2 separate regions of the Homo sapiens genome follow, and region 2 is linked to region 1. Evidence: fine-mapped expression QTL. A gene starts in region 1. The other region holds a variant in brackets. All regions are shown on one strand. Distances are from middle to middle.

Evidence for each region. PIP is the estimated chance that this variant, and not a neighbour inherited with it, causes the effect. A credible set is the group of variants that fine-mapping cannot tell apart.
Region 2: its variant is the best candidate, but not a certain one, in a credible set for the expression of PRXL2B in atrial appendage (GTEx, PIP 0.59).

What each region holds. Positions count from the first base shown.
Region 1 is chr1:2,584,736-2,589,105 of GRCh38, forward strand. PRXL2B (peroxiredoxin like 2B) reads left to right here and starts at 2,042. Exons shown (of 7, transcript NM_152371.5): 1 at 2,042-2,213; 2 at 2,356-2,560; 3 at 3,006-3,057; 4 at 3,655-3,718; 5 at 3,815-3,890; 6 at 4,187-4,305. The coding sequence starts at 2,151. RefSeq lists an enhancer at 2,850-3,482.
Region 2 is chr1:2,800,474-2,804,843 of GRCh38, forward strand. TTC34 (tetratricopeptide repeat domain 34) reads right to left here and starts at 1,220. Exons shown (of 9, transcript NM_001242672.3): 1 at 1,104-1,220; 2 at 1-395. The coding sequence starts at 354. The variant C/T (reference allele first, on the strand shown) is at 1,656.

The sequences.
Region 1 (4,370 bases):
AACCTCACTGTTCTCTGTCCAACTCAGCACACGACTGAGTCTGCTTCACTGGGTCTTCACTTCCTTAGGAGGGCTCCTGAGCCACATCCAACTTTAATCAAATACACTGGCATGATGATCTGTCTTATCTTGATTTAACTCTTGGGCCCAGCCAGGACCTCAAAAGGATGGAGGTGGAGTTTTTCAGCCCCTACATATGCAAACACACACATAGCATGTATCTGAGCGGCCACATGGGCTGGCCCTGCTATTTTCTTATGGCTTCTCAGCCTCCCAGCCACCTTCTGCTCTGCATCACTGGAGCTGGGAGGCTGCAAGCTCCTTTCCCACTCTCCTCTGCCCGTTGGCTTCCAGTGAGGCTCCTGCAGCGATGGCGTTGGTGGGAGATGCCAGGCGAGGAATTGATCTCGCATTCTCGTTTCTGGGAACGTCTCTGAAAATGGCTGAATCCCGTCTGGGATCCCAGCTCCCAAGGAGGCGGCAGCTTGCTCACTGCTTGCACAGCCCCAGACGGCAGAGGGGCCCTCTCCTGCACAGCCTGAGACAGTGGAGGGGCCCCCTCCTGCACAGCCCCAGAAGATAGAGGGGCCCCCTCCTGCACAGCCCGAGACAGTAGAGGGGCCCCCTCCTGCACAGCCTGAGACGGTGGGGGGGGGCCCTTCCTGCCCAGCCCCAGATGGTAGAGGGGCCCCCTCCTGCACAACTCCAGAGGGTAGAGGGCCCCTCCTGCACAGCCCGAGACGGTAGAGGGGTAGCCCTGGTCTCTGGGGGCTGCACTCCTGGGCTCTGGAGCTGCCACAGCTCCTCCCTCCTAGTGCTTCCCCTTCCTTGTTTTGCTTTTTGCCCTTTCTGACATAGTGACGACTTCCGTTTCGCAGTCTGGACCTTCACCACCCCAGGGCGAGGGCACAGGCGAAGCAGCAGCACCCCCCCGGGGCCTCTCTTTATTTGGAATACAGTGTGGGGGCTCCCCCTTCCTTCTCCAGCCCGCCCAGGCCCCTGGAGCTGTCCTGGGGCCTGGGGAGTGAGGACCCGTGCCAGCAGCACAGACTCTGCCAGGCCGGGCCCGCTCAGGTGGGAGCCCAGGCCGGGTGAAGCTGTGACCCGGCCCTCACCCCAACTCGGTGACAAAAGCTATCACAGGGCTGCAGTGGGGGAGGAACAGGACGCATCTGCCAGGCACCTGACCCGCAGTGCACTTCTGGGAGCTGTGCTTATCTCCCCGGGGTCTATTTCGCCCCAAGGTTTGGCGGGTTAAAAGCTGATATGCAACCGGCACGACATGAACAGTATTTCATGATTAAAGACATCGCGTCCATGTATAATTGAGATGCTGCCGCATTTGCGGGGATTTTCAAGCGAAAACCAGGCCACGTGGAAAGGCTAAGCCCTCGCACCCCCCCGCCCCCCACTGCTGGGACCCCCGCCCCGCGGGAGACCCCGGCCCGCGGTCCCCTATGCCCGCGACCCCTGCGCTCACCCTCTCCCCTCAACCCTGAGTCCAGCCCAGTCTCGCGCGAGGCCGCAGGGAGACCCCCGCCGCTCCCTGGACCACCCCTGGGCCCACCGTACCCAGCCGCTCCCCGGCGCCCCCCGGGACGACCCCGAGCCGGCTGCCCGCCTCCCGCCGCATTCCGCACAGGCGCACCGCGCACCGAGGGCCGCACCGCCCAGCTCCGCCTGCTGCGCCAATGGCCGACGGGGTCCAAGTCGGCGGCCCAACGGAGAGGCGGGGCTAGGGGCGGGACCAGGACGCGGGACAGCAACTGTCCCGCAAGGCCCGGATTGAGGAGGCGGGAGGGACCGAAGCAGGCGGACCCAGGATTTGGCGCCGCGATCTCGAGGCTTGGCCTGGAGTAGGAGGGGAAACAAGGCGGGACTAGGGGCGAATCCGAGGGGGCGGAGCAGGGCTCGGGGTGCGGTCGGGGGCGTGGCCGGGGCGCGCTGCGGCCATCTTGGGGGCGGGCCCGGGGCGGAGACGAGCCCGAAGGGGCGGGGCCTCGGCGGCAGCAAGAAAGGCGGGACCGGGGCATCTCGGGGCGGGGCTTGGGGCTGGATCTATGAGCCGGGAGCGGGGATCCAGGAGCGAGGAGCCGGGAGCGGGGAACAGGGAGTCGGGGAGCCGGGAACCAGGGCTGGCAGCGGCCGCCATGAGCACGGTGGACCTTGCTCGCGTGGGCGCGTGCATCCTGAAGCATGCGGTGACCGGGGAGGTGAGGCCGGGTGGACGCAGGGCGGTGGGCGCGTCCCTGGCTCCTTGCCCGGGCGTCCTGGCAGCGATGGGGTGGTGGGGGCCGCGGGGCCTGGGCGGGGCTGGGGGCAACGGGGCGCGCCCATGACCCAGCCGCCCGGCAGGCCGTGGAGCTGCGGAGCCTGTGGCGGGAGCACGCGTGCGTGGTGGCCGGGCTGCGGCGCTTCGGGTGCGTGGTGTGCCGCTGGATCGCCCAGGACCTCAGCAGCCTTGCTGGGCTCCTGGACCAACACGGCGTGCGCCTGGTGGGCGTAGGGCCCGAGGCCCTGGGTCTGCAGGAGTTCCTGGACGGCGACTACTTCGCGGGAGGTGCGTCCTGTTCCCCGCCGCGGCGGCGCACATACCCTTCCCTAAGCTCAGGGCGTTCGGGGCCCTTTCCTGCCCAACCCCGGCCCTTCTGTCTGCTGGAGCGGCCTTGATATGCCCACGGGTCAGCGTCCCTCATCTCTCCCTGCCTCCCCGCCCCGCAGCTGGTGGCTGGGTGGTGCCCTGCACAGACCTGGGCCCAGCAGCAGAGTCTGGACGAGCTCTGCCCCGCCGGCTCCACCTGTTGCCTCTGGGACTCAGCCCCTCTTCTGAGGGGAGGGGGGACACTCAGCCCCGTTTTACCCCTCCCTGCCCTGCGGGGGTGGGCTGAGCACGGAGGGTGGGCAGAGGAACAGAGGGTCGGAAGGAGGAGGGCGATTCTTTGTGGTGAGTGGGTTGGGGGCTGGTTCTGCGCCTGGGGCACACACATGTGGCTTCCGCTTTCCAGAGCTCTACCTGGATGAGAGCAAGCAGCTTTACAAGGAGCTAGGCTTCAAGCGGTGAGTGGGGGCGGGAACCCTTGGGTAGCGTGGGGTGGGGGGCCCAGGGGTTCCCACCGCTCCCTGCCACCTCCTCTCCCTGCTGCCCTCTGTGGTGCTGTCCACTCGGGCCTTCCTGGGCAAGGCGGCTCTGGTGGCACTGTTGACCAGCCCTTCTGCCAGGCCTTCTCTTGGGTGCTGGGTGACTGTAATGAGCCACCTCGTCCGGGGCTTACTCTCGGTGTCCAGACCACCTCGTGGGGTGGAGCCTCGTGGCCCATCAGGGGCCATCCTAGCTTTCTGGTGTCTGTGCCACAGGCTGCTTCCTTTGCTTGGCAGTTGCCAGCTGAGCCAGATCCCTGGGCACACCCAGCCTGGGGCCCCATCCATGCTCCCTGCACCCTCTGTGGACCCTCGGCTAGCAGCCACTGGGCTCGGTGTCCAACCTGCCGGTGGGCTGGGCTGGCTACTGATCTGGTCGCCTGTGCCATCTCTGAGCCCTGGTGAGGCGGGTGGGTGGGGTGGGGCCTGACCTAGGAACTGGTCTCATGGACACTGGAGCAGGCTCTGGACCCAGGCTTCTCCGGAGTTTGGCCAAGCGACCTGGTGTCTTCGCAGGTACAACAGCCTGAGCATCCTCCCAGCAGCTCTGGGGAAGCCCGTGCGTGATGTGGCTGCCAAGGTGTGTGCGGGTCAAGGGTGTACAGGCCGGGGGGTGGTGGGAGCTCCCAGGAGCCTTTCTTCTAGGATTGACTCAGGCTGTACCCACTCCTGACAGGCCAAGGCTGTTGGCATCCAGGGGAACTTGTCTGGGGACCTGCTGCAGAGCGGAGGGCTGCTGGTGGTCAGCAAAGGTGGGTCGAGGGAGGGGCCTCGGCCACTGCCTCAAGGAGGGCCTTGCTGAACTTGGTGGCCCAGCCCAGGCCCTCTCTCTGGCTTGTCAGTCTCATCACAGCCCCTCCGCCGCAATGTGGCCTGGTTCTGCGTGTCTGCTGGGCTGAGTGGGGCTGTGGCAGAACAGCTCACTCATCTGGGTAGCCGGGTGGGGGATATGGCTGGCCAGGGCTGCCCTACCCTCCCTCCTCCTGGTATGTGGCTGTGAGGTGCAGGCGGCCTCCGGGGTGCCGTGACTGCCTGCCCGCTGCTACAGGTGGTGATAAAGTGCTCCTGCATTTCGTCCAGAAGTCCCCAGGCGACTACGTCCCCAAGGAGCACATCCTGCAGGTCCTGGGCATCTCTGCGGAGGTCTGTGCCAGCGACCCGCCTCAGGTGAGCTGGGCCTTGGGGGCGCTGCCTGCCAGCCCACGCCCTGCCCCTAGGTCCCCTGGGAGGAG
Region 2 (4,370 bases), 220 kb after region 1:
GTGACGCCCGCGGGCCAGCAGACCTGCCAGCAGGTGCAGGATGGCGGCGGGGTGGTCCGGGCAGAGGGCGCCGAGGAAGGCAGAGGCCAGCGACCCTGTCAGGGAGACCACTGCCATGCCGTCCCAGTGGATGGCGGGGATCTGGCTGTCCCCGCGGCACCAGGACTCCAGGGTGGCCACCACCGCCGCCCCCCGAGCCTGGGCCAGGGCAGTGCGCACACTCTGCAGGGCTGAGGGGGCGTGGCAGCTGAATGCAGCCAGGTAGAAGGCGGTGGCCAGGGGCAGCTCCCCCAGCGCCAGATGCTGCTCCCCCTCCCGGCAGAGGCAGGCCACGAGCTCCTGGGCTGACATCATGTCTGGGACCCCGACGGGCCCATGTCTGGTCCTCAGAGTACCTGGGGGTGGGGGAGCATGGTGAGTCCACAGAGGGCGGCCAGTTCTCCTGCCCTGTGGCCACCCGTGCCCAGCCTCAAGCCACCTCCACCCCTTCCCATTGACCCCACGGTCAGTGCAGACCCCACTGGGTGAAAACTGGGGGGATCCTGGGCTGGTGGGGTGGGGCCTACCAGGTGTCCCAGGCCAACTTCCAGCCCACTGTTCACCTCTGGGGCCTCAGTTTCGTGCCTTGCAGAATGGGACAGTGGCCTCCCCCAGCTCAGTTCCCTCTAAGAACATCTGACCCCTGAGTGTCCATGTCGGGAGGGTTACGGTGGCCCGAGGTGTCAGGGCCCAGCAATAGGAACCCCGGACCCACCCTCTGCCCCTCCCAACCCTGAGCCCCTCAGGAAGGCACACCCCCCGTCAGTCCAGGCAGCCCTCTCAGTGGGACGCAGGACCACACCCCTGCCCACCCTCTCACACCTGGGCCATTCGAGGGGGGCGCCGAGAGCACCTGCCAGGCCCTTGGGTCGGGGGAGCCACCCCAGCCCATGGGTGGGGGGGTTCAGTTTTGAGGTTGAGGTTCCAGGGACAGCCCCTGGTACTCCCCTATTCCCTGTCCCCAAGCTACTTGACCTGACGAACTAGCTCCGCACAGCCCTTTCTTCCCTCATCAAACAGGCAGCCCCCAGCATCCGCTCTCAGACACACACAGACACACTCACACTCGTCTGCAGCTTGGAGGCTGAGCCGGCTGTGCCCTGGGGACCCAGATTCCCTCGTGGGTGGTGGGGGACAGAGGGATGTGGCTGGCTGGAGGGCCCAGGCCTGGGTGGGGCTCCTATGACCGCCCCGTGTGGGTTGGGGAAGGCACAGCCTGCGGTTTCCCGGGAGAGTGTCAACACCCTTGGGTCTCCTGGCTGTCCTGCAGCGCCCCGCTGTGGCCAGAGGCTACCAGGCCGAGGTCCCACCCACACTGCCCCAGCCAGGCTCCAATGGGCTGCCTCAGAGCAGAGAACCCTGAGTTCATGGGGGTGTTGGGGGAGAAGGGGCCTGTGGGGTACAGCCCCCCATAGCCGGGGCCAGCCTCCACCCTGCCTGCTCTGCCAGGGTGCCCCCAGCCTCCTCTCCACATAGATGAGGAGGGCGCTTCCTGGAGGCAGGTGGGGGCCGCCTGCCCACCCAGTGCACTCAGGCTCTGGGTTTGTCCCCCAGAACTCCGCCTGGGCTGCTATGCGGGCCCCTCACCGCCCAGCCTCACTCCTCTTCTGGCAGGG[C/T]CCTGTCACCCGGTCCTGGGGCACCTCCCCACAGGCTGTTCCCTGTGCCGGCAGCTGGGACTGGACCTTCCGTGCACAGCCAGCCCATTTCCCTTGGCCGTCCTCCCTCTGAGAGGCTTAGGCAGCCCTGTCCTGCCTGCACCAGCTGAGCCAGCTGTGCCCTGGGGAGGGCAGGGCACATTAGCCGAGGGCACACCCCTCCCCCATCACAGGGTTGAGGCCCAGAGGCAGCTCTGGGAGCCATGACCTGAGCCTACTGCCCAGGGACCCTGATTGTTGCTGAGGAAGGGGTGGCAGCATAGGGACTATTTTAGGAAACATCACCTTCAGCCCGTGGCCACCGTCAGCCCATGCCGCAGGAGCAGAAAGACTGAGTGGGGTGGCTGGAGGCAGGCTCAGGTCCCTGAAGCTGAGACCCCACCACCGGCAGCTGCCCTGGAGGGCAGGCATGAGTGGGGGGAATGGGGGTGGTGCGTCCCTGAGAGAGGTCCCTCCCAATTCAGGATGCCAAGGTGCCCGGACACCAGGCCAATGCTGGCTCCTCTGTGGGGCTCAGGGAAGCAGGGTTGGGGGTGCCCTTTGGGGGAGGAGATCTTGGGAGTGGGGGGTGGCATCCCTGATCCCCTCGATGTCTGGGTCTCCTGAGACATGCCCCGCAGGCCCTTTGGGGAGGGTGTGGAGCCCCTGCAGCGTGGGCAGAGCAGTCAGGGTCAGTCTGAGGGTGCAGGGCAGGGGGGTCAGCAGGGCTGGGGCTGCCTGGCCCAGTTCTTCAGCTCCATGACATTCACCAGGGCCCAAGGCCTGTGCGGGTAATGCAGTGGGGGCAGTTTATTAAGAGATTGCCCATTACTCGGTGTTGATTACTTTCATTTTAATTGCCCTAATTAGGCGAGAGCTGTAATGGAGTGGGGCTGTCACCAGGGCTGTAGAAGAGCCCGGGGCACAGAGGTGGCAGGTCTGCGCGACAGTTGCCATCACAGCAGTGCCGATGGGCCCCCTGCGTCTCTGCCCTGTGCACAGTGCCCTGCCCGGGGCCCACAGGCACTGGCCAGATGAGCCTGGAAGTCTCGGAGGGTCCCGAGCTATGATCACAGCCCCTGCCTGAGAGCAGCACACCTGGATGCAGGTAATCCCAGGGCCGCCTCCACGCCACCTCCCAATCCGCACTCTCGTCTCTGATTCTGCCACAGACAAAAGTGGGCGGCTGAGCCGGACAGGGAGGCCGAGGCCGGTGCCTGGTAGTCTCAGGGTCTCGTGTTCGGGTTTGTGCTGCTTTAGTTTATGAGTCAAAAGGATTTCCAACATTTCCAACTTGAGGCTAGCGGGGGGCGGGGGATACTGCTCATTTGCCCTCTGCACACTTTCCCATTCAAGACCATTAGCGCACTGACAGCGTAGGGAGCTGGCTCATCTGACGCTTCAGGGGGAAACAGGGTTTGAGGGTGATGGAAGCATTCAGCCCTGACTGGACCCACAACAACTACTTGTCCTTACAGACCCCTGCGAAGAGCCCAGGAGCTGCTTCCGACGCCCTGGGAGCCGCTCCTCCTGCTCTGAGCCTGCTTGGCTGCCCCCGTTTATGTGGTCGGACCTGGCTGGGTGGAGGGAGGGGCAGGACTCCGAGTCAGCACCCAGCAACGACCCCCTCACTCCTTGCACTCAGACTTGCAGAAATGAAAGGGCCTGGTTCCCACGCCGGGGCCGAGCAGGAGCACATGGTCCCCACCAGAGATGCCCTTAGGAGAGTCCGCAGCTGGCAGGACCCGTCCCAGTCACACCGAAGGCCTGGGATAAAGACGCCACCCTCTGGGAAGAGCTCTGAGCCCTGTCACCAGAATGTTCTTGAAGCCAGCAGTGAAAACAGTTGACTTGGTGGGAGCCGGGGATGGCCTTGAGGCTGACCTCATGTGCTCATGGCTCACAGGGCCGTGCATGGGCTGCTGGGGCAGGCATGGCTGCAGGCGGGGCTCACTCTGCCCTTTCTGCAGGTGGCACAGAGCAGCGAGGCGCCCGCCCCAGGACCAGGCTCTCCAGCCTGTTTGGAGCTCCTTTTCTGCTCCCCAAGAGTGGACACGGGTGTGCCTATTGGGCAAGGGAATCTTTTGGAACCTTTCCCAGGGCCTCTTCAGAGGCTCCTCGAGAGGGACGGGCAGGAGGAATCCAGCACACGTGTTGTCTTTATACAAACAGGTGCGCTTCATTCACCCTAGTCAGTGGAACCCCCTGCCCTCCAGACACCTGAGTGCCCTCAAAGGTCAGGCATGCAACTGGGAGGCGGGGTCTGGCCGTGAACTGCTGCTGCCAAGCACCTGCCTGCAGGCTCCGCCGAGGCCCCACCAGCACCAGCAGCCCCGAGGCTGTTCCTCCCCAGCTGGAAGGGAGGTCTGCACCCTCCTGCCACTGGGGGCTGCCAGCGTGGCAACAATTTGGGGCCCTTGGTGACCTTGGGGGTGGCGGGCACGTGTCCTTGTCCCCTACCATCACAGCACAAAGGGAGGGATCCCCACAGCCTAGGCCTGGGGCCCAGGCCTGCACTGCCTTTGGCAGTGATGTTGCCTCCGTGCAGCTTCCCCAGGGCCACAGCCTCCCCACCTGCCTGCCCCTCTTCCCCCCGCAGGCGCTCACCTGGGGAAGCAGATTACTTTGGGCTAAGCCAGCCCCAGTTAGAGAGGGGAAGCCTTAGCAACAGCTCGAGGCTGCGCCCCAAACCCCAAA